Regions from separate parts of the Homo sapiens genome. Here all the other regions are linked to region 1. The links come from fine-mapping of genetic effects on gene expression. A gene starts in region 1. Each other region holds a variant in brackets. All regions are shown on one strand. Distances are from middle to middle. Region 1 holds the start of AXDND1 (axonemal dynein light chain domain containing 1). Region 2 overlaps AXDND1 (axonemal dynein light chain domain containing 1). Region 3 overlaps TEX35 (testis expressed 35).

Evidence for each region. PIP is the estimated chance that this variant, and not a neighbour inherited with it, causes the effect. A credible set is the group of variants that fine-mapping cannot tell apart.
Region 2: its variant is the best candidate, but not a certain one, in a credible set for the expression of AXDND1 in testis (GTEx, PIP 0.75).
Region 3: its variant is the best candidate, but not a certain one, in a credible set for the expression of AXDND1 in hippocampus (GTEx, PIP 0.69).

Annotation. Positions count from the first base shown.
Region 1 is chr1:179,362,216-179,370,399 of GRCh38, forward strand. It overlaps AXDND1 (axonemal dynein light chain domain containing 1), which reads left to right and starts at 3,756. Exons shown (of 26, transcript NM_144696.6): 1 at 3,756-3,785; 2 at 4,189-4,391; 3 at 6,585-6,757; 4 at 7,760-7,863. The coding sequence starts at 4,295. RefSeq lists enhancers at 3,307-3,706, 4,087-4,156.
Region 2 is chr1:179,520,472-179,528,655 of GRCh38, forward strand. AXDND1 (axonemal dynein light chain domain containing 1) reads left to right here. Exons shown (of 26, transcript NM_144696.6): 22 at 4,863-4,976; 23 at 7,856-7,960. Among named protein-coding and RNA genes, the nearest start is that of NPHS2, 51 kb to the right of the region's middle. The variant G/A (reference allele first, on the strand shown) is at 4,249.
Region 3 is chr1:178,513,735-178,521,918 of GRCh38, forward strand. TEX35 (testis expressed 35) reads left to right here. Exons shown (of 9, transcript NM_032126.5): 2 at 293-343; 3 at 966-1,034; 4 at 2,125-2,181; 5 at 2,881-2,940; 6 at 6,638-6,702; 7 at 6,939-7,140; 8 at 7,488-7,530. Among named protein-coding and RNA genes, the nearest start is that of TEX35, 4.7 kb to the left of the region's middle. The variant T/C (reference allele first, on the strand shown) is at 4,843.

The DNA of each region.
Region 1 (8,184 bases):
TCTTGAGGTTTTCTGTTTAGGAAGATTCTTACCTACTCAGCTTACATTTTGCTATGGTATTTTCCATCAAAGACCTTAATAGTATTTTACTTTACTCCATTTTAGGATTCTCTTGGTATAATTAAAAATTAGGAGAGGAGTTACCTTATAAGTAGCAATTGTATTTTTTGATAGTTATAGTCTTATTGTATTGTTTTTGTTTATGCCTCATCTATTAACTTTTTTCTTTTTGTTTTGTAGAGATGGGGTCTTGCCACGTTGTCCAAGCTGGTCTCGAATTCCTGGCCTCAAGCCATCCTCTAGCCTAAGCCTCTCAAAGTGCTGGGATGACTCCGGCTTGAGCCACCACACCCAGCCATTCATCCAACTTTTTTTTTTTTTTTGAGAGGGAGTTTCACTCTTGTCGCCCAGAATGGAGTGCGATGGTGCTGCAACCTCCACCTCCCGGGTTCAAGCGATTCTCCTGCCTCAGCCTCCTGAGTAGCTGGGACTACAGGCATGTGCCACCAGGCCAGGCTAATTTTTGTATTTGGTATTTGTATTTGGTAGAGACAGGGTTTCACCATGTTGATCAGGCTGGTCTCTATCTGACCTCAAATGATCTGCCCACCTCAGCCTCCCAAAGTGCTGGGATTACAGGCATGAGCCACCACGCCCTGCCTCATCCGTTCAACTTTAACGTAGGCCTTTGCCGAGAGCTTCATACCCATGTATTAATGTATAATCAAATAGTTACTTTTCATTCCCATCCAGATATCTCAATCTTACTGCAAACTTAATATATCCACAGTCCTAAACGTATCCTTCTCCAAAGCCCTCCTCCAAATCTGGTCTTCCTCCTTTGTTTCCAGTCTTAGTAAATTGTATTGTTACAGGAAATGGGGTTCAGATTCAGACCCCAAGAGAGAGTTTTTAGATCTTGCACAAGAAAGAATTCAGGGCGAGTCCACAGTGCAAAGCAAGTTTATTAGGAAAATAAAGAAAAAAAGAATGGCTACTCCATAGAGCAGCCCTGAGGGTTGCTGGTTACCCATTTTTATGGTTATTTCTTGATGATATGCTAAACAAGGGGTGGATTATTCATTCTTCCCCTTTTCAGACCATAAAGGGTAACTTCCCGACATTCCCATGGTATTTGTAAACTGTCATGGCGCTGGTGGGAGTATAGCAGTGAGGACGGCCAGAGGTCACTCTCGTGGCCATCTAGGTTTTGGTGGGTTTTAGCCGGCTTCTTTACTGCGACCTGTTTTATCAGCAAGGTCTTTATGACTTGCTATCTCATCCTGTGACTTAGAATGCCTTAACCATCTGGGAACGCAGCCAAGTAGGTTTCAGCCTTATTTTACCCAGTGCCTATTCAAGATGGAGTTGCTATGGTTCAAACTCCTCTGACATTATGTATGATCACCATACCACAGCACAAGACAGAAAAGAGACCTTTGATGTCTCACAGATCTAATCACTTCCTAAATCCTTTAGATTATACTTTATGTGTTTTTCTAGAATGTGTTCACTTATTTCTATCTGCTTTCTTAATACTGTACTTGGATTTTTTTGAACTAGGTTAAGAATACAAAAGATGGATAATTTTGTGTGCTCTATAATGCTATTATGTGTATTTTAATTCTTTGAAAAATTAGGGTAATGGGAGATAAGGCTAAAGGCTAAAATGCTAACACACCCAACATGTTTGATCGGAAGAGTTCAAAGGGACCATGTAGACTTGTTTTGAACCCTTTGCTCGAATTTCTCACAGCTATTACACTCAAAACCAGAAAATAGCCGTAATTCTGTCAACACAGAAGAGAACTGTCCAACTGATTTTCATGTTTGTCCAGGCACTCTACTTGGTGCTAAGGAATATGGTGATTGAATAAGATAAAGTTTCCTCCCTGTCTGGAAGCAACTAGACGCTGGGCTTCTCCCAGCGATTCATTATTTGGCACTAAATCTCTGCCTTAATATGAAACGATCCGGCTCATGCCTGTAATCCCGGCACTTTGGGAGGCCGCGGCGGGTGGATCACCTGAGGTCGGGAGTTCGAGACCAGCCTGACCAACATGGAGAAACCCCGTCTCTACTAAAAACACAAATTTAGCTGGGCGTGGTGGCGCATGCCTGTAATCCCAGCTACTAGGGAGGCTGAGGCAGGAGAATCGCTTGAACCTGGGAGGCGGAGGTTGCGGTGAGCCGAGATCGAGCCATTGCACTCCAGCCTGGGCAACAAGAGTGAAACTCCGTCTCAAAAAAGAAAAGAAAAGAAATGATCCCTCACCGAACCGAGCCTCAGTTCAGTGCGAAGGCTCTGATGATACTCTTTTTTTTTTTGAGACGGAGTCTCGTTCTGTTGCCCAGGCTGGAGTGCGGTGGCGCCATCTCGGCTCACCGCAACCCTTTCCTCCCCGGTTCAAGCGAATCTCCTGCTTCAACCTCCTGAGTAGCTGGGATTACAGGCGCGCGCCACCTCTCTTGGCTAATTTTTGTGTTTTTAGTAGAGACGGGGTTTCACCATGTTGGTCAGGCTGGTCTCGAACTCCTGACCTCGTGATCCACCCGCCTCGGCCTAAGAAAGTGCTGGGATTACAGGCGTGAGCCACCGGCCGCTGATGGTATTCTTTCCTGAGGGCAGATTTTCACGCCAGAAGCCCCGACAATTATACCTGAGCTGGTTCCACCTAAGCTCAATCCTCCTTCCCTGCCCCAAGGGGGTGAAAAATCTGGGCCCAGGAGGCCTTCCTTGTGCTCTGGGGGGAGGCATTTAAGGGTCCAAGGAAGACGTGACCGAAATGTAAAGCACTGGACGGCTTACCCAATAAGGGACCCAGCGTTTCTTATTACCCAACATCCCCCTGAGTCTGGCTTTTAGAAAAATATGCAAAGCGTCCGGGCGCAGTGGCTCACGCCTATGATCCCAGCACTTTGGAAGGCCGAGGCGGGCGCGGTCAGGAGTTTGAGACCAGCCTGGCCAATATGGTGAAACCCCGTCTCTACTAAAAATACAAAAATTAGCCGGGCATGGTGGCCCCCGCCTGTAGTCCCTCGGGAGGCTGAGGCAGGAGAATCGCTTGAACCTGGGAGGCGGAGGTGGCAGTGAGCTGAGATCGCACCATTGCACTCCAGCCAGCGCGACAGAACGAGACTCCGTCTCAAACAAAACAAAACAAAAAACAAACTACAAAATTAGCCGGGCATGGTGGCGTCTGCCTGTAGTCCCAGCTGCTTGGGAGGCTGAGGCAGGAGAATTGCTTGAACCCAGGAGGTGGAGGTTGCAGTGAGCCGAGATCGCACCATTAAACTCCAGCCTGGGCGACAAGAGGGAAATTCCGTCTCAGGGGAAAAAAAGAGAAAGAAAGAAAAAGAGGAAGAAAGAGAAAGAAAAATATGCAAAGCAACAAAAAAGAGAGCTAGAAAGATGGAAACAACTCAGAAGACCCTTGCTTAACCCGCGTGCGTCACGGGCTACAGGGGTCGGCCCCTCGAGCTAACCCCCACCGGCGCCTGCGCACTGGCCTGGCCCGCGGCAGGAAGCCCCGGCGTGAGACACTTTCGGATTCCGTGACAACGGCGGGATTAAACGTTTTTCTTCTCCTTTGCTACTGAACCTATGCTGTGACTTAGAACATAAGAAACTCCAAGAGGGTGTAGGGATTGTCTTAGCTGTCTCCCTCCTCCGCCGGCACCGCTGAAGGCAGCCCCTATGGAGGGCGCTAAACCTCGGGGCCCTGGGTTTCTATGACGACAAACAGGCGTTCCAGCAAAGGAGGAAGTGAGCGGATGCTGGGCGGGTACGCAATGTGTGGGTAGGATCGCGGGTGTCCCTTTCCCGTCATTTTAAACCAAGAAGCAGTGCGAGGCCTGCCCAACTCGCGAGTTTGTGGAACTGGCGCGCGAGAGCGCTGCCTGTGGGGAAGGTATGGTCCCCAGCCGAGCCGCCTGCAGCGAGTGTCCCCCACCAGGGGTGCCGGCGGTCTGCGGGGTCCGCCGAGCGGGTCCTTCCTGCCCTGCTCCTTGACCCCGACCTGACGGTCCACTAAGGCTTCTTAGTCGCTACACATAACCCCAGAACATAGAGGTCGCCCCGAAGAAGGAGAACCATGCTAGATGAATTCTAAACTGCGATCTGAACCTAAGTACTCAATAGTTGTCATCTTTTTTTTTTTTTTTAAATCTTTTTTCCTCTGCCTGCAGGACTATGTGGCAGCCTGCAAGTCCCAGTGCGGCGCTGATTTGTGTCTAAATTAGCTTTCCGGAGGACTATTTCAAATTACTAAAGAGATAGGAGGCATTGTTTATTATGTCTCTCCCGAAAACGCCCTCCACCCCGCTAAACTCTACATCAACATCTGAGAGCAAAAAGTTAAAAGTGTCTGTAGCCAAGGAAGGGACAAGAGGTAAACTTCGTTGATTCTGAAGTCATAAACAGTCATGGCCGTAAGACAGAAATCACCTTCCATTCACCGGTTTTTTAAATCTGATATTCAGAATACCTTGATTGGCTACATTTTTCTAACACACTTGCTTAAATAAAGCAAGAAGTCATTCCTTTTACAGTATTTTGAGTCAGAGTACTGTTTCACTACTCCATCTAAATACAGTTTATACTTTTTTTCAAATGTTGATTTATATATGATTTTAAATTCAACCTATTTTAAATATCAATAGTTACGTATTTTTTGGTTCCTGGTCTTTGGCTTTAAGGAACTTTGGAAAAAGTAATAGTGAGGCAGGGCGCGGTGGCTCACGCCTGTAATCCCAGCACTTTGGGAGGCCGAGGTGGGCGGATCACTTGAGGTCAGGAGTTCGAGACCAGCCTGGCCAAATATGATGAAATCCCGTCTCTACTAGAAATACAAAAATTAGCCGGGCATGGTGGCTCGCGCCTGTAGTCCCAGCTTACTCTGGAGGCTGAGGCAAGAGAATCGCTTGAACCCAGGAGGTGAGGTTGCAGTGAGCCAGGATCGAGCCATTGCATTCCAGTCTGGGAGACAAGAGCAAGACCCCATCTCAAAATAAATAAATAAATAGGCCGGGCACAGTGGCTCACACCTGTAATCCCATTTGGGAGGCTGAGGCTGGCGGATCACGAGGTCAAGAGATTGAGACCATTCTGGCCAACATGGAGAAACTCTGTCTACTAAAAATACAAAAATTAGGGGGGGCGTGGTGGCTCGTGCCTGTAGTCCCAGCTACTCAGGAGGCTGAGGCAGGAGAATCGCTTGAACCCGGGAGGTGGAGGTTGCAGTGAGCCGAGATTGCGCCACTGCACTCCAGCCTGGCGACAGAACGAGACTCCGTCTCAAATCACGAGGTCAGGAGTTTGAGACCAGCCTGACCAACGTGGTGAAACCCGGTCTCTACTAAAAATACAAAATTTAGCCTGGTGTGGTGGCACTCGCCTGTAATCCCAGCTACTCGGCAGGCTGAGGCAGGAGAATCACTTGAACCCGGGAGGCAGAGGTTGCAGTGAGCCAAGATCTTGCCACTGCACTCTAGCCTGGGCAACAGAGGTAGACTTGGTCTCAAATAAGTAAATAAAGAAACAAAAAGTAATAGCAGAGATAAGAGAAACTCAATTTAGTACAATGTGCCAATTTGTATTAGCTTTTAGTAATTTTTCTAAATGAGAGCAATTCCTTAAGATTTTCGTTCATATGCGGATCTGTACTAGAGTCAGCTAGTGTTATCCTTACCCGGTTCTGTTAAAGCTTTTCCCATCTCACCTGCACCTTGTACTAAAACCCCAAGCCCCACCCAACTTTTTTTTTTTTCTTCTGTTTCTTTTGATCTCAAGCTCTCAGGAGATTTGGTAATGTAAACCCTAACAACTTTTGATAGTAATCAAAGCATGATACCTCCTTATAGAAATAAACATAAACCATACCATGTTACAGGCATAGATTAAGAAGAATAACAACTCAACCCTACCTGACTGACTTCATAGGAGGGCTTTTCCTACATTATCCCAACTACCTGCCTTTATTACTCCCCTGCCCTAGTCAAGCAGGGTAGAACACTCTTTTTACAGTTCCCATTCCACAGATTTGTCAGCTCAGATTGTTCCACTCTCATTTGCAACAATCCCAGTTCCATCTTTACTTTTAAGCCCAACCCAGAGCCTTTCCACTCTATAAATGCCTCGATTTAATGCAATTATTCTCACCTTTGAATTCATGTAAGAAAAAAATTACTAAATAATTTGACAGCTTGGGGGGAGAGATTTGTGATTTTCATATGAAAGGGAAAATAGACATTCATTCCTGTCTTCTTAAGGCTCTCCCAGTTACCTGAGCAAGTGAAATGAGTTTAGTTTTCAACTTTGAATTGAGAATCATGCAGGTTCATCTTGGTACCTGAGTTTTTGAAACTGTGTCTGATGTAATGTGAGTAGGGTAGGCAAGATGAATGTTATTTTCCTTGACTAGATGATGTTCACTGTTTTCAATATTATTTGTTACTATCTTTGTCAAATAGAAGCAATGTTTCTCTCTGTTAGAAACAGATGGGATTGATGAGGCAGTCTGAGAAGCTCCATCTAACTTAAAAAAATATATAGTAAGAGTTTTTCTTTTCCACTACTTACTTAGGACTTCCTGAGCTAAAGGAGAAAAAAAATATGGTGGATCGTTCAAAACTCCTTCCTACTTCCCTTCAGAATGAGTTCATTCCCAAAGAAGTTCTTCTTTCTCTGACCTATGCGGCCAATGCTGGTCCTTGTCCTGAAAACTTACTACCTCCTAAGAAAATTAAAACCCCAAAGGTTTGTATGTACATATGTAGAGTAATGGGGAACATTATTTTTTGGGCATCTGATTATTCTTTAAGTATTTATTATGCACATATTATATATTCCAGATAGCCTTAAAAATTTTAAGATTGATTGAGACAGGGTCTTACTACTGTGGCCCAGGCTGGAGAGTAGTGGCCTGATCATTGCTCACTGCAGCCTCGACTACCCTGGCTCAGGTGATCCTCCCACCTCAGCTTCCTGAGTAGCTGGGACTACAGGTCTGTGCCACCACACCTGGCTAATTTTTGTATTTTTCATAGAGACGGAGTTTCGCCATGTTGCCTATGCTGGTCTCAAATTCCTGGGCTCAAGCAATCCACCCGCCTTAGCCTCCCAAAGTGCTGGAATTTCAAGTGTGAGCCAACATGCCTGGCCTTAAAAAATTTTTTTAGGCTGTAATCCCAGCACTTTGGGAGGCTGAGGCAGGCAGATCACGAGGTCAGGAGATCAACCATCCTGGCCAACATCATGAAACCCTGTCTCTACTAAAAATACAAAAATTAGCTGGGCATAGTGGCATGCGCCTATAGTCCCAGCTACTCGGGAGGCTGAGGCAGGAGAATCACTTGAACCCGGGAGGCAGAGGTTGCAGTGAGCCGAGATTGCGCCATTGCCCTCCAGCCTGGACCACAGAGCAAGACTCTGTCTCAAAAAAAAAAAATTTAAAATAATTTCTTAGATTGAAAACTCCAGTCTTTTGTATAAATTGTTTCCAAGGCTTGAGTATTTCCATTGACCTGTTTTTATGTGGATTTACTAAAATGATAATTGCTACCCTTAATGTTTTTCACTCACTATAGAATTATTCTAGTTTTAGTCTTTATGTCATTTAATAAGAATTCTGCTCTCTTTTTTCCTTAGAGTACCCAAGTGCCCTTAATGTAAATACAGTACTTACTCAAAACTATTAATACATTTTATTTGATTAGATCGCCCTCTGCTGGATATTCATGTGTATTTGCTTTTTCCCAGGGCACTCTTCCACGCCTTGTAGACCATGTCTGGCATCACCCTGTTCGAAGGAATAAATTCAAATACCTGATTGACCATCCCGTCTCCCTCACAGGAGCTGGAAGGTAAAGAAGGAAGATAGTAGGATAGATGCTGATAAATAGAGTTGTTTTCTCATTTTGAATGATTACCTTGGGAGGGGCAGAATTAGAAAAATCACTGAATCATAGATGATAAAATTTACAGTATCTTTGAATCAGAATACAATCCAGAAGGGCCAAAGACCATCTTTTTGTGTGTGATTATTATCAGTAGGATGGAAATAGGTGCTGGCTTTACATATTTTTGGTTTAAATTTGCTTTTTGCATGCCTTTGTATACTTGTCCCTATACTCTCCTATTCCCTGTTGTACCCTAGTAAAAGGGACAAGATCCAACAGGCAGAA
Region 2 (8,184 bases), 160 kb after region 1:
GTCTTGATGTTGCCTCGGCTGGTCTCAAACTCCTGGGCTTAAGTGATCCTCCTGCCTCAGCCTCCAGAGTAGCTGGGACTATGGCATGCACCACTGCACCTGGCTATTTTTCTATATAACTTTATAAGCTAGTTCTTAAAAATAAGATTTTTTAAAACTAGCATAATATTAAATTTATATATTAACTTAGAGTAGACATGTTTATGATGCTGAATTGTATTATCCAAGAATATGGAATATAGGATGTCTACTTTTATGCCTTTAAATCATATCTTATTTGTTTGCTTATTTTGTACGTTTCTTATTAGGTTTATGCCTGAATATTTTATTTTTTGCTATTTTAAATGAGACATTCTTTTCCATTATATCTTCTAACTAGTAACTGTATATATATATACAGTTATATATATATACAGCATATTTATATATATTATATATATACAGACTATATATATATAATCAATTTCTGTATTTTAATTTAATTTAATTTAATTTTGTTTTATTTTTTGAGATTGGATCATACTCTGTCACCCAGGCTGGAGTTCAGCGGTCCAGTTATGGTTCACTGCAGCCTTGACTTCCTGTGCTCAAGAAGTCCTCCCACCTCAGCCTCCGGACTATGTGGGATTATAGGTGCGTGGCACCATGCCTGGCTAATTTTTAATTTCGCAGAGACAGGGTCTTGCTATGTTGCCTAGGCTGGCTTGAATTCCTGGGCTCAAGTGATCCTCCTGCCTCAGCCTCCCAAAGTGCTGGGCTTACAGATGTTCACCACCATTCCTATTTTAATTTTATATGCTGTGACTTTACTAAATTCTCTTACTGTATTTCTCTCTCCTCCTCCTGCTGCTCTTCCTCTTACTGTTTTTAGTAGTTTTTCAGTGGATTCTTTGGGGTTTTCTAGATACTTAATCAAATCACCTACAAATAGGGATAGTTTTACCTCTTTCTTTTCAATTCTGATACTTCTAGTTGCTTTTTCTTTTTTAATTATATTGAATAATTCTTCTAATTCAATATTAAATAGTAGTGGAGATAACAAGCATCCTTTTCTTGTTTCTGACTTTAGCAGGAATGCCTTTAGTGATTTACCTTTAAGAAATATGCTGGCATTGGAGCTGATTTATAATTTAATTTATTTGTTCTTTCTTCAAAAGTCTCAGATATCCACCTTGGGTCATTTGTCTTCTACCTTAACCTGTAGAATTTTCTTTAGTGAAGATATCCTGGTGGCAAACTCAGTTTTTGTTTGTCTGAAAATGCCTTTATTTCACCCTCATTCTTACATTTTTTTTTTTTTTTTTTTGCTGGGTATGCTATTGATTCTGGGATGGTATTCTTTTCTCTCAGCACATCGTTATTATTTTTACTGTTTTCTGGATTTTGTTGTTATTGAACTGACCATTGAGAATCCAGCTGTCAGTTCCTTTGAAGTGAATTCATCTCTTCTCTCTATTTTTAAGGTCGTCTTTTTGTCTTTGCTCTGATTAATGTGGAGATGGATTTTCTTTTCTTTTAAATTTTGCTTGGGATTCTCTTGATTTCCTGAATCTTTAATTTGGTATCTTTTGTTAGATCTGGAAAATTCTCAGTCATCTATTCAAATATTGCCTCTACTGCATTTGCTCTCTTCTTTCCTTCTAGAACTCTAAATGAATGTGTGTTGGAATCAATCCCCCATGTCTCTTAACCTTCTTTCATATTCTCTCTCTATTTCTCTGCATTGCATCCTGAATAATTTTTCTGGCTTACTATCCAGTTCACTAATTTGCCCTCCAATTGAATTTCATCTGCCATTAAACCTTTCTGTTGAGTTTTTAAATTAAATTGCTGAAGTCCTATTTGATTCTTTTTCAAGTCTCATCATTTTTGTAATCTTTCTGTCTTTGCTCATATTTTCAATCTCTTATTTCTTTAAATAGGTTAAGTATAACTTTTGTAGTCTGTTTGATAATTCTAATATATGATGTATCTGTATAAGAATGTTTATTACAGCATAGTATAATAGCAAAATACTAGAAACAATATGAATGTTGATCAGTAGGAGATTAGTTAAATACAACATGGTACATTGAAATAATGGAATTCTATGCAGATAAAGTAGATGTTTAAGTAGTTAAATAAATATAATCCATGATATATTATTGAGAAAAGCAGATTATAGAATATAAGATATATTATCTCATTTATATTAAAATGTTTATAGATGCAAAAAGCAGTCTAGCAGAATATTCAGCAAATGATAAAAATTGTTAACTCTGAGAGTTAAGATTCTTAATTCCTCTGTAGTGTTCAAATATTTTATAGCAAGAATGTTATCAAGAAAAAAAGTATTTTCATTTTGTAAAAATATCCTAATTTTTTAGTCACATTGTGACTATTTTTCTATACTGTACACATATTTCTATAGCATAATTTAACATTGCTATAAAGTATTTTGTTATATGGCTTACACCATAATTTATTTGTGCATTTTCCTATTGTGGGCATTGAGCTTATTGCTAGCTTTTGCTTTTATAAATATTGCTGCTGTAAACACCCAGAGGATGTTTTTAAATCTATATGAGTAGACTCCTTTGAGGTGTTCAATACTGATGACTCCTTCTTTCTTCTCTTTTGGCTTTCCTCGTGGCCTCTCATACTTCAGAGGCTACTTCTGGCTGCCTTTTCAGGCTCCTCTTTCTTCCCTAGCATTTTATTTTTTTCAGAGGTTTGAAAATCTATTATTGTTTTCCTTGAGTATAGGCTTTTGATTTCATCTGATTGTTTTTGTTTTTTTTTTTTTGAGGCAGCAATTTCCTATTTATTTATTTTAATTGACAAATAAAAATTGTATATATTTATTGTGTACAACATGATGTTTTGAAGTATGTGTACAATGTGGAGTGGCCAAATTATTTTTCTAAAAATAACAGCTTTATTGAGACACAATTCATGTAATATGTACAATTCAGTAATAGTTTGTGGTATATTCACAAAGTTGTACAGTGATAATCACTATTGAATTCCAGAACATTTTAATCATTCCCAAAAAGAAAATCCATACTGGTTAGCAGTCACTCAAATTTCCCCTTTCTTCTCAGGCCCTGGAAACACCACACGGTTTCTGGCTCTATGGATTTGCCTATTCTGGACATGTCATGTAAATGGAATTATATAATATGTGGCCTTTTGTGCTTATTTCCCTTAGCATAGTGTTTTCAGAGGTCAGCCACATTGTTGCCTGCATCAGAACATCATTCCTTTTTTTTTCCCAATAGGTTTTTGGGGAACAGGTCATAGTTGGTTACATGAGTAAGTTCTTTAGTGATAATTTCTCAGATTTTGGTGCACCCATTACCCAAGCAGTGTACACTGTACCCAATGTGTAGTCTTTTATCCCTCCTCACCTCCCACCCTTTTCCCCTGAATCCCCAAAGTCCATTGTATCATTCTTATGGCTTTGCATCCTCATAGCTTAGCTCCCACTTATGAGTGAGAACGTACAATATTTGGTTTTCCATTCCTGAGTTACTTTACTTAGAATAACAGTCTCCAAATGCCATTATTTCATTCCTTTTTATGGCTGAGTGGTATTCCATGGTGTATATATACCACATTTTCTTTATTCACTCATTGATTGATGGGCATTTGGGCTGGTTCCATATTTTTGCAATTGTGAATTGTGCTGCTATAAACATGCATGTAAAATTATCTTTTTCATATAATGACTGCTTTTTCTCTGGGTAGATACCCAGGAGTGGGATTGCTGGATCAAATGGTAGATCTACTTTTAGTTCTTTAAGGAATCACTACACTGTTTTCCATAGATCCCTAGCATTTTATGTAACTGGGTTACTGTCTAATTCTCTGGCTACTTCACAAGTTTGCCTTTAGGATATAATTTACTTTCTTGGCTTTAATTAAAGGCAGATGACTGTCAGATCTCTATTTTTAGCCCAAATTCTTCCATCTTAAACTCCAGATCCATATATTCACCTTCTTGCTGGGTATTTTCACTTGGGTATCTCAGTGGTACCTCCAACTCTCACAGCCTAATCTGAACTCATCTCTCTCTCCAAACCTATTTATCCAGTTTTGTTCATTGTCTCTGTGAATGGCATTGTCATCTCTCTAGTGGTCTAAACTGTAAACTAAGTGTCATTCAAGATGCACATTTTCTCTAACCATCCCGTGTCCATCCAGTCAATCACTAGGACTTGCCTCTTAAATATCTCTTAAATCCTCCTTTTCCTTCTCTTCATTCCC[G/A]CAGCCACTGTTTTGTTCACGCTCCTTTTCTCTTCCTCTGCTTCCCTTTCTTCCTCTTCTTTAAAGCTATTCTCCTGTTGCTAGAATGATTGTTTTGAAATGCAAAGCAAATCAACCAATTTATTAGAGCCTCATTGCCTTCAGGATAAGAGCCAATCATCTCCCTGGCTTGACAGTCTAGCCCTTTCTCTCTGATTGCACTCCTATTCATTTGTCTCCCAGTTTTTGTCCTATTGAACTATGCTCTCTCAGATCCAATCATGTGCATGGAACATCCTCTGCCCAGAGCTGCTTCTTTTCCTTCCCCATCCTTCAAGAAAAAAACTCAAACATTATCTCCTTCAGGAAACCTTCCTAACCAACTCCCTCTTTTACCCAGTCCACTACCTGGTCTAAATTAGGTGCTCCTACTATGTGAATGTATGCATTCATTGTATTTTCTTGTCCGTGAAATTAATAAGTTTCTTAAGGACAGGGACTATTCTTATCAACCTTTGTATCCTTGTCACTAGCACAGTACCCAGCTGCAGGATTAGTGCTCATTAAATATTTTGAACAAATAATTGCTAATATTTATATACACCCTTTAATCATAATATTGGTTCATCTCACAGGAGGCTGTAAAAGAATTCATTGAGCCTGAAATAGACGAGTCTTTTAAAGAAGATGAAGAAGAAAGTAAGGAGGATAGGAAACTTCAGGAGGAAAATAAAGAGAGAGCAGAAGAAGTAAGATTATTTGGTATTTGTTTTTCCTCCTACATACATACATACATACATACATACATATATTTTAGAGACAGGGTCCTGCCCTGTCACCCAGGTTGGAGTGCTGTGGTATCATCATAGCTCACTGTAACCTCGAACTCTGGGGCTCAAATGATCCTCCTGCCTCAGCCTCTTGAGTAGCTAGGACTACAGGCATGCACCACCATGCCTAGCTAATTTTTAAAATTTTTTTTATAGAGATGGGATCTTGCTATGCCCAGGCTGGTCTTGAACTGGTCTCAAGCGATCCTCTTACCTCAGCCTCCTAAAGTGCTGGGATTACAGATATGAGCCACCATGCTTGGACCATATATATATATATACACAGACATATATAGTGGGGGGAAAATTATAGACACACACAGACAGTGGAGAATAGAAGTAGGTGGTCTGGAGTGAACTCCAGTTTCCTTCTTTTCCTCATATAGATTTAGCCAAACCTGCAGAAATATTTATCTTTGTCACTTTATTTTCAGAGGAAGGGAATGTTCCTTTTCCCTTCTAAATCCAGCCATTTCCCATTAGCCTCATTTATACTTTTATTCCTATTAACTACACAATCTACTTCTCACTCTGGTACTATTTTTTTAGCCCTTCATTGCCACATTTTTTCAGATAACACTTTAAAACTCCATATTTCTACTTCTTCAGCTCCCATTCTGAGCTGCCTTTTGCCCTCCTCCCAGGCCCATCACCAGACCTCTCCTCTCTTTACCCCGTCTCAACCCCCGCAGGGGCATTTGTAGTAATAAAAACCCTTCCTGGGACATTTGTAATAATAATAATAATACGATGATTACCAAAAATTGAGTGCCTATCATGAGTGATATACTTTGCACATATTATCTCTTATCTATGCAACACAACTTCAAGGTTTATATTATTGCCCCCATTTTACAGATAAGAAAACTGAAGCTCAGAGAGGTTGACTGATTTACTCAAAATCATATAGCTGTAAGTGGCAGAACCGATATTCAAACCCAGTTAAGTCTGGCACAAGACCCCTTGCTAATTCTTAGATTGACTACTACTGCCTTTGGCTTCCTAGAACTCATGATTGCCTAACACTCTCTACAATGTCTTGATTTACTTCTTTGATATATTTCTTCTCTGTATATAGTTTAAGTGTTGGCATGACTCCAGGCTCTGAAATAGGTCTTCTACTCACTGCACAGGCAGGACAACAGAACAAAAATATTATATAACACCCAAGCCTATTTCAATCAGCATTTTCTGTTTTATTTCTGGTAAAGTGCTTGGTATGTAGAAGGCACAGAATAAATGGAAATTGTCAGAGGTGTCTTAACCAGAGTGACTCCATCTTGAATAAAGTCCAGATAAAGCAAAACCTACTGGGTTACTTTCCCAGGAAATTGGACACTCTTAGTCACAAGATGTTTATGGTTGAGGAAACGAGTTAATGGAAAAAGGCATTCTCAGTTTAAAAATGGGTTTCACTTTAAAGATAATGGTACTGTTACAGGAAAGGTGTCATGATTCAGAGCCCAGGAGAGGATTCTTGGATCTTGCACAAGAAAGAATTCAGAGCGAGTTTGCAGTCCAAAGTGAAAGCAAGTTTATTAAGAAAGTAAAAGAATAAAAGAACAGCTACTCCATAGACAGAGTAGCCTTAAGGGCTGCTGGTTGCCCATTTTCTTGATGATATGCTGAACAAGGGGTGGATTATTCATGCCTCCCCTTTTTAGACCATATAGGGTAACTTCCTGACATTGCCATGGCATTTGTAAACTGTCATGGCGCTGATGGGAGTATAGCAGTGAGGACAACCAGAGGTCACTCTTGTGGCCATTGTGGTTTTGGTGGGTTTTGACCGGCTTCTTTACTGCAACCTGTTTTATCAGCAAGGTCTTTATGACCTGTATTTTGTGCTGACCTTTTGTCTCATCCTATGACTTAGAATGCCTTAACCATCTGGGGAGGCAGCCCAGTGGGTTTTAGCCTCATTGTACCCAGCTACTCTTTAAGATGGAGTTTTTCTGGTTCATACGTCTCTGACAGTATACTCATAAATTATTGCTGAAGTCAACAGTTACACTAGAGAATAATAATACTAATAGCCTGTCACAAGCTGATCACCAGCCTTTATAATAAAGTACACTATTCTTAGTGTTAATATCCTATATAAGCAAGCATTATGTTTATGTTAAGGGCATTTCTCCTCTTGCTTTCTGAGGATACCCAACTCTGTAATAGAGTAATTTCTAGTAAACTGCTTTTACTTTACTATACTCTGAGACTCACCCTGAATTTTATCCTGTGTGAGATCGAAGAACCTGCTCTTGGGGTCTGGGATAAGACCCCTTTTCTGGTAACAAAACCATTACTACTGCAACTACTGCTATTACTACTACCACCTGTAGACTTAGTTGAGCCCCTGTCCTCTCTATTTTACAAGCACCTGTTCGGCCTTTAAATATCACTTTCTCTGTTAATAATTCCTGAAGTACCTAGGAAGAAGGCATGACCCTTTTCTGGGTGTGCACAGCCCTTGGAGCACACTTTTATGCTAACAGTAATCATGTTATACCATAATTATTCATTTTATTATCTATCTCTCCTATAGTACTGTCAGTTCCTGGAAGCTGGAAGAAATCCTCTTTGTTTTTCCCATAGTTATATCCCCTTGTCCACACTCCCCATCCTACCAGTTTTTCACAGCGTTTGCTATGTGAAAGTCTTCAAAAATTCTTGTTGTGTGATTAAAGGAAATGGAAAATGTAAGCTTCCAACATGGTGCCAGGAAACTTGCTACCGTGCCAGGAAACTTGCTGGGGTGCTACACCAGCTTGCTAACAGGTCCGCATGTTTCTGTGTTCTAGCAACCTTCAACATCTACAGAGAAGGAAAAACTCATTCGATTCATTGGAGAAGATGAAAATGTTCATTCCAAACCTCTATTTGAAACAGATGTGTTGTCTTCCTGGGTATGTATCTGAAACCCAGCTAGGGAATTCAACACTATTTAACATTGCATAAAAATGATATGGTGCTAACATAACTTTTAGCTACTCTAAGGGGACCAGGGATTCCTAAGTCATGTATTTTACAGATATTTTTCTTCCAACATAATTCCTGGAAAACTCCTTTTTTCACCGTAACTTTACAAAAGCTTCTCATTCTCATCTTTAAACCTCTTTTTTTTTTTTTT
Region 3 (8,184 bases), 850 kb before region 1:
CTTCTAGTTATCTTAAAGTGCTTTCTCCACGCTGGCGCCTCCAGCAGGGAGAGGGCTGCCTGCCAAATAGGCAGACACACGCCCATAGGAAGAGGACAGCACGACAAGATGTGATTTGTTAGGAATCGGATCCGGGTGCTGCGGGGTCTGTGAGCCTGAGCTCAAGCCAGTTGGACAGGCAGGGTTGCATGGTTGTGGGGGGCAGGGGGCAGGGTTCCCGTGCAAGGGCCAGATGTTCTCCTCCCCAATCCTGATGTCTGCCAGCCTGAATCTCAGTCTCCTCTTTTTGCAGAGCAAGAACTACAAGGCAGTTTGCCTGGAATTGAAGCCAGAGCCGACCAAAGTAAGAAGCCCTTTTGAGGCCATGCAGGCAGCCAGGCCTGAGATCCATGGGGAAGTGACCAGGAGTCAGGGGTCATTTGCTGATCCTAGTGGCCAAGATTTGTCCCAGGTGCTGGGGGATGCACTGAGAGTTCTTGCTCTCATAGAACTTCACACTGTAACCAATCAGATACATAAACGAACAAGGACTCATTCAGCAGTGTTACCTGCTCTGCTGGGAATCAAGACAGGGAGACATGTCTGAGTGGCTGCCGTGGAGTGGGTGGTAGGGAAAGGCCTTCCTTTGAGCTGAGAGCTGAAGGACAAGACTCTGGCTTTGCAAAGGCAGAGTAAGAGCCTTCTAGGCAGAGGAGGCAGCATGCACTGAGGCCCAAGGTGGGAATGAGCCTGGCTGTTCAAGGGACAAAAGGAGCTGAGGCCCCGTGGGCCAGCAGGGGAGTGGAACAAGATGAGCTGAAAGAGGGAGGAGGATAGAGGAACCTTCTGCACAGGTGGGGCCACCAGCTTTCCTCTTGCCTTAGCCCTAAGGGAGGAACAGAAACACAGGGGGATCTCTTCTGCCTCTGCACTTCCACCGCCCATCTGCAATTCCCAAAGGTCTGTGTTCCTGTTTCAATCCACAGACATTTGATTACAAAGCAGTTAAACAAGAAGGGCGGTTTACCAAAGCAGGAGTGACACAGGACCTAAAGGTGAGTGCGTGAACTTGGAGGCATGTCTATATTCCAAACCACGTGAGTGTAAGTTTTCCCCAAATCCTCAGTGCCTGTTTCCTAAATACAAGAATATCCTCTTACATAGGCACAGTGCAATTATCAAAATCCAGAAGTTAACACACAGACAATACTCATCTATAGCCCTTGTTCTAATTTCACCAGTTGTCCCACACATGTGTTGCATAACAACAGAAAGGGGACGTTTTCTGGTCTAGGGTCTGATCCAGGATCACACATTGCCTCGAATTACCAGGTGTCTTTTCTATAATCTGGAACAGAACAGTTCTTTTTCTTTGGGTACACTGACATTTATTTATTTTTATTTTATTTTTTGAGACAAGGTCTCCCTCTGTCGCCCAGGCTGGAGTGCAGTGGCATGATCTAGGCTCACTGCAACCTCCAACTCCCAAGTTCAAGCAATTCTCCTGCCTCAGCCTCCCGAGTATCTGGGACTATAGGCGTGCACCACCATGCCCAGCTAATTTTTGTATTTTTAGTAGACACAGGGTTTCACCATATTGGTTTTGAACTCCTGACCTCAGCTGATCTGTCTGCCTTGGCCTCCTGAAGTGCTGGGATTACAGGTTTGAGCCACTGCACCTCGTCTGGGGACATTGACATTTTTACAGATTACAGATCACTTATGTTGTGGGATAACCCTCAATTTGGCTTTGTCTGTTGGATTCCTCATGATGAGATTCAGGCTGTGCATTTTTTGGCAGAGACACATGATGCCTGTAGGTCCCACTATCTTATAGTCTTTTTAAAACATTAATTAATTAATTAATTTTGAGATGGGGGTGGGGGTCTCGCTATGTTGCCCAGGCTGGTTTCAAACTCCTTGTTTCAAGTGATCCTCCCGCCTTGGCCTCCCAAAGTGCTGGGATTACAGGTGTGAGCCAGTGCACCTGGTCTATCCTATTGTCTCAACAACATCTTTTCTTTCCTCCCTATTGAAAGCTTTTCTCTGACAGTGTCCCAGGATCTTTCCTTTCCTCCTGTTGATGGTTTCCCCTCCATCCTAGATATTTCTTTCCTCCTTCTCTTCTCCATTTTATTTCCTCAGAATGAACTCAGGGAAGTGAGAGAAGAGCTCAAGGAGAAAATGGAGGAGATAAAACAGGTAAGAAGATGAGGCCTTCCATATCATGGAGGGAAAGTGTAGCTTCAGGAAAAATGCAATCCTTAAGTTTGAATAGTGAAGGAAAGCAGGAATTGCATGGAAAAATGTAACTCAGTCCTAATACCCAGAGCACTTCAGTATTAGGTTATTCACTTCTTACTTGTTTGATGCCTAAACCCAATTTTTGAGTGACTGAGGACTCCCTAAAGTGTCTCTTTGGTAAGGGTGGGTGATGTCACCTTAGTGATGAAGCTGAGTAAGAGGGGCTGATTTGGAATATGAATTTAGGGGAAGTCAGGGACCAACCCCATCTTCCTTATTCACTTCCCCTGAGCAAGTTGCAAAGCAGGAAACCTCTCATTTCTATGATACAACCAACCAACCACCTGTAGCATCCTTAGGAAAAAAGCGAATAATCGAGCAAGAAAGTGTAATCGAAGCTGTGGTTCAAGCTCCACATGCAGTCTTGCAGTAGCCAGATCTAAGCCGTGCCAAGGCTGATGGTGGTGGTGACTTGATGGTGCTTGCACCCTAGTCCCTTCACAGACTCCTTGAGAAGAAAGTGGCTCTAACAGGCCATTATTAGTCCATGCCAGAGAAGCAGCCACTGCCCTTTGCTTAAAATGCCTGAAAGATGCCACAACTAACCTCAATAACATGCTCTGTGCTTTGTCAAGCCATGCCTTTCTTCCTTGTTAGATAAAGGATCTAATGGACAAGGATTTTGATAAACTTCACGAATTTGTGGAAATTATGAAGGTAAGCATTACTTGAGTGCCTTCCATGGGCCAGTACCATACTGGAAACTGTGGAAGAGACACCAGCAGACCCTGCCCTCCAGGAGCTTATTATCTACTAGTAGTCCCATATTCCATTGCAAGAAAGCATTGCAAGCCAAATAATTAATTCGTTGTTTGCTAGTTAGGGGCTTAGAGACATGAGAAATGAATGCGGGTTGGAGTAAGCAGCGAAGTCCTTACAGAGAAAGTGAGTCTCAAGTTGAGCCTTGAAGACTGCATGGGAAGCTTAATGCAAATCTCATCAAGAGCCCAGTAAGATTCTTTTTTAACTCAAAAAATTACTAGGATGATCTAGATTCTAGAGCAGTGATTGACAACATGTGGTGTGTTTCAGAATCACCTGGAACACTAATAAAACAGAGCCTGGGCTCATGTTCAGATGGTGCTGGGCCCTTGTAGTTTAGACAAGTTCCCAGGGGAAAGACTGAGAAGCATAAGCTGGCAAAAGCAAATAGGTACCCATTTTTCAAGAGTTGTAAGGGGACATTAGCCTTACCAGATATTAAAATTCACGATAAAAACAAAGTTATTAAATCAGCCCAACGATAACCAAACACATGAATGAAATGGGATAGATAACGCCTCAACAGCCTCTCTGCCTGGGATGTAATGAGAATCAGTTGTGAGAATTTTAAAACTCCATTTACTTAGACCCTTTCCCAGAGGAACTGAATAAAAATCTCCAGGGTGGGCCGGAGTTGCTTAAAACTCCGTTTAGATTCAGATGCTTGCCTGTGGATGAGAACCAGGTCCTAAACACTTTAGCAGCAGTTACTAACCTTGGCTGCACATTATAATCACCTGGAAAGCCTTTCACCTATGCCCTCCCCATCCAGGCTACACCTCATAACGATTAAGTCAGAAGCTCTTAGAATGAGGTCCAGACGCCAGTGGGTTTTAGTTGCCCAGGTGATTCCAGTGTATACTCAAGTTGAGAATCACAGCTCTATAGAATTTACAATATGATAAAGGTGATTTTTTGATGTCAGTCAGAAGGAAAGGATTAGGTAGTAATATTAGAAACATTGCTTGACTATATGAAGAAAAAACTTAAGCCAGTTAACACTGTAAAGCTAAATAGTCTATGAAGTGATTTTAAATAATAAAAACCAATAAGAAGAAATGTTAAGTAAATATGTAAATAGAAGTTCTAAATATAAATACAATGGAAGAAATTACAAAGGACATATTGATATATTTAACTATGTAAGATTTTTTTAAAAGAATTATGACAGAAAAATCACTTACATTTACAGAATTAAAGAAACTGTTTGGGGGAACATTTTTCCAAAAATATAAGCACAGAAAAAAGGTTTTTATCCATAACATATAAAGTTCACATAAATCAATAAGAACTAAGTAGGAAAATAGACGAGTGTGAACAGACAATCCACAGAAGAGAATATAACTAAAAAGCAATAAACATATTAACAAAGGCCTGACCTCATAATTAAATACATGCAAATGAACAATCAATTATTGTTACACTCAAGCAAAATTTTAATTTATTACAATTACAGTATAAGACATATAAATGCTCTTATACTGTTAATTAGAGTGCAAATTTGTACAAAACTGGAACATTGTTAGACAATAGATATAAAAAAATCAACCTCTTGATTTGTCAATTTCACTTCTTAGAATTTAACCTATGAGAATAATCAGAAACGCCATCATGGGTATACATAAAAAGATGTTCATGACAGGATTATTTGTAATAATAAAAATTTGGAAACGACCTCAATTTTCAACAGTAGGGGAATGGCCAAATAAATTATGAAATACTTATATAATAAAAGTTAGGAACTATTAAAGACAATGTTTAGAAAGAATATTTATAATAAGAACTAAAAAAGCAAGA[T/C]ACAAGTAATATACATAGGCTGATCTCAGCTAGGTTAAAAAAAATAAGCAAATATATAGAAAAAAGACTGGAAAGAAATATACCAAAGGGGTTCATAGCAGTTATTTCTGGATGAGAATATTCATACTTTTATATCCCTCTGTACTGTCCAAATTTTCTACAAAGGGCATGCATTAATTATTTCTCTGTTAAAATCCAAACAAAGTTAAGTGTTTTGTTGGTGGGGAGGCTGGGTATGGAAAGGCACAAAGGAGGCGATTTCAGGCAGGGGAACCCCTTAAGCAGGGCAGGAGGCAGGAGGAGTATGTTGTATATGGTGGTCAGCACGGGGATCAGTCATGAAGTGGGACCACTGGGGGAAACTGTGAGGGAAAAAAAAAATGAATGGGCACAAAGGCTGTAGGTAATGATGGCTTTTGAAAGACATGCAGACAAGCTAGGACTTGGTTCTGTGAGCAGCAAGAGGCCTCTGGAGATTCTTAATCAAAGAACATTCTGGGAGGAGCACTTCAAAAAGCTTAGCCCGGCAGGTTTTGTTTGCAAGGCGGCCTGGGTGGGGCCCAGGGAGCAGGTGGAGATGTCTGACAGCAAGAACACCACAGCTGGACCAGGTGTAGGGAAAGAAGGAAGAGATAAATCTGAAAGATGCACTGAGGGAAAAATAACAGTTCCTGGTGACTGATTCAATATGGAGACTGAAGTCTTGAGAGGCAAGCGTCCGTGATGACACCAAATTTTAATCTGGTTGATTAAAAGAAAGTGGTGACGATGACAATGACAGTGGGGAGATAGAGGTAGCTTGGGAAAATGAAATCAGTTTGGAACATGATGATTTTGAAGGGGTACATGTTGGTGAAACGTGTAAGAATATGGGACATTTTGACTCTGATGTTTTGGACCTAGGGGACATTGACTTCAAGGATATTTTGACTCTATGAATACAAATATTTTATTCAAATTTGTACTAACATTTAAAAATGCTTTTCAAGAAGGTATTTTATGAAATCATCTCTATGCAGATGGTGTAATTTCTTGATCAATTTTCTATAGTACATCAATTAAACTGTTACCAAATCTTTCATTTTTAATGAAAATTATTTTATTGGAATAAATTGTTTTTATTTCTGTTTTATGACAACCCAAACCTGTTTTTCTCTGTGACAAATATTGTCAGTTATAGCTTCTACCATCTTAGAATTTTTCTCATGTCCACTATTTCCATTCAATTTACCCAGGTCACATTTTATAGATCAAAACTTTGTCAAGATTTTATTATTCCTTCTGTTCTGAGCGAATAATACGTGTGATGTATCCCTTTAGCTGCTGTCATTTTACTTTTTGTTGACCATCTTTGCCAGGAATTAGGTAAAAGATGAAGCAAACATAAATATGCAGGATCTGGGTGCATGCCAAGGGTCAAAACATTGCAGTCAAATTGTCTTTGGGGTCACAAGATTGGTCTTCTTGGTTCCATCATTTTATAGGCATCAAACCAAGGCAAGCATTGGTTTTATCCAAAGTGTGAGATCAGATAAAACAGTAGCTGGCCTCTGGCTCACCTAGAGACTTCAGAAAAGTCCCCTAATGTCTCTGCCTGTGCTTTCGTCTCATTGGGGAAGGGGGATGAGGAAGGGGAGAAGCTGTACATGTCACGGACACTCCAAAAGCCACCTCACCCAAGTCTAGCGAGGATTCTTGAGGAAGTAAGATGCAGAATGGTTTGCAGAGAGGCAGGAGGAAGGTATTTCCAAAGTCCTTCAAAATGAAGATGCTAGTTCTGAATTCTCTCTCGAAGGAAATGCAGAAAGATATGGATGAGAAGATGGACATTTTAATAAATACACAGAAGAACTATAAGCTGTAAGTGTAACCTGCACTCGTCTCTCCTCATCCCTAAAGGGTCTCCTCCCTTCCCTTTGTTGGATCCCTTTGGGGTTCAGAGGACACCCAGACTCTTGGAGGAGTTGTCTTTGCTCCTACTGCCCCTGTGACTTGGAGTCAAGGCCTTCCATGGCCACCCGTGTACTGGTTATCTCCTTGTCATGCTGCAAAATGTCTCCCCAACTCTCTGCCCCTCCCTGGCCCTCCTCCCCCAGTCCCCTTAGAAGAGCACCAAAGGAGCAGCAGGAACTCAGGCTGATGGGAAAGACTCACAGAGAACCACAGCTCAGGCCCAAGAAAATGGATGGAGCCAGTGGAGTCAATGGAGCACCCTGTGCTCTTCACAAGAAGACGATGGCACCACAAAAAACAAAACAGGGCTCACTGGATCCCCTTCATCACTGTGGGACCTGCTGCGTAAGTGAAACCCTGCCCGAGCCCAGCACTGGTGCCAGACCCCTGGCTCCGGCTCCCTGGTGACTTCCCCGAGCTTGTGCTGTATCATAGTGAAGGGACAGGTCCGCCCGCTGCTGACTTCTGGGTGCCGCCCGAGCCTGCGCCCTCCCTGACCTGCCTTGCCTTCTAGGCCTGTGGAGCCTCCTTAGCTGTGACCATGCAGGACTTGACCCTGGATGGGCCTACCCGCCAGCTCCACCCTCTTATTCTGTCCTTCCCTTTAGCAAGGGCAGATAAGGTGCCTAGCAGGCTGCCCTTCTTGGACCAGGGGAAATTGATCTTTCTTGTGCCGTTTCTGTCCTCTGCAGGAGAAATGTTTGTTGTGTGCTCTAAAGAACAACTACAATCGGGGTAGGTAGATTCATACAAGATGTGCCTTTTCTCGATCAGGTGCCTTGTTGTCCCCAAGGCCATGTGCTCCCAGCCGCATTCACATCACACCCCTCCTGAGGTTGTGCCAGGAGTAGGGACTGTTAGCAGATGCTGCCACCCAGCATGCTCAGTCATACAGGATGTGGCACCAGGAAGGAGGACTTGGGTCACCCAGCCTAGAGGCTGCTGCCTGGGGCTCCCATGGTGGGGAGGGTGCACCACTAGTGGCGGAACTGACCTTGCCTCAGGTCCTGCCCTTTCTCCCCATCCAGTGGGAAATATTCACACCAGGTCTGGGCACCCTTTTCACCCTTGGCTTCTGGAGCTGCCTTCTGATTTATCTGTACCTCAACCCCGGTGACATCGAATATGTGTTTCCAACCTAGCGCAGCTGCAGAACCTACCAGCAGTTCCGATTCATCACCTCCAAGCTCCTTAAGATGCACAGTCAGGGCTTCTTGTCCTGTTAAATACCACCCCAACCCCAGGCCTCCACTGGAGATTAAAAACCTTCATTCAAAGCCAAAGGGGATGTCATGGTTTTGAGTACCAGTCCAAAACTTGAGTGTGTGGAGGTTGATTATTTTTGGTTCTATATCAGTGTATTTCAGACTCCAACCCTTCCCCCTGCTT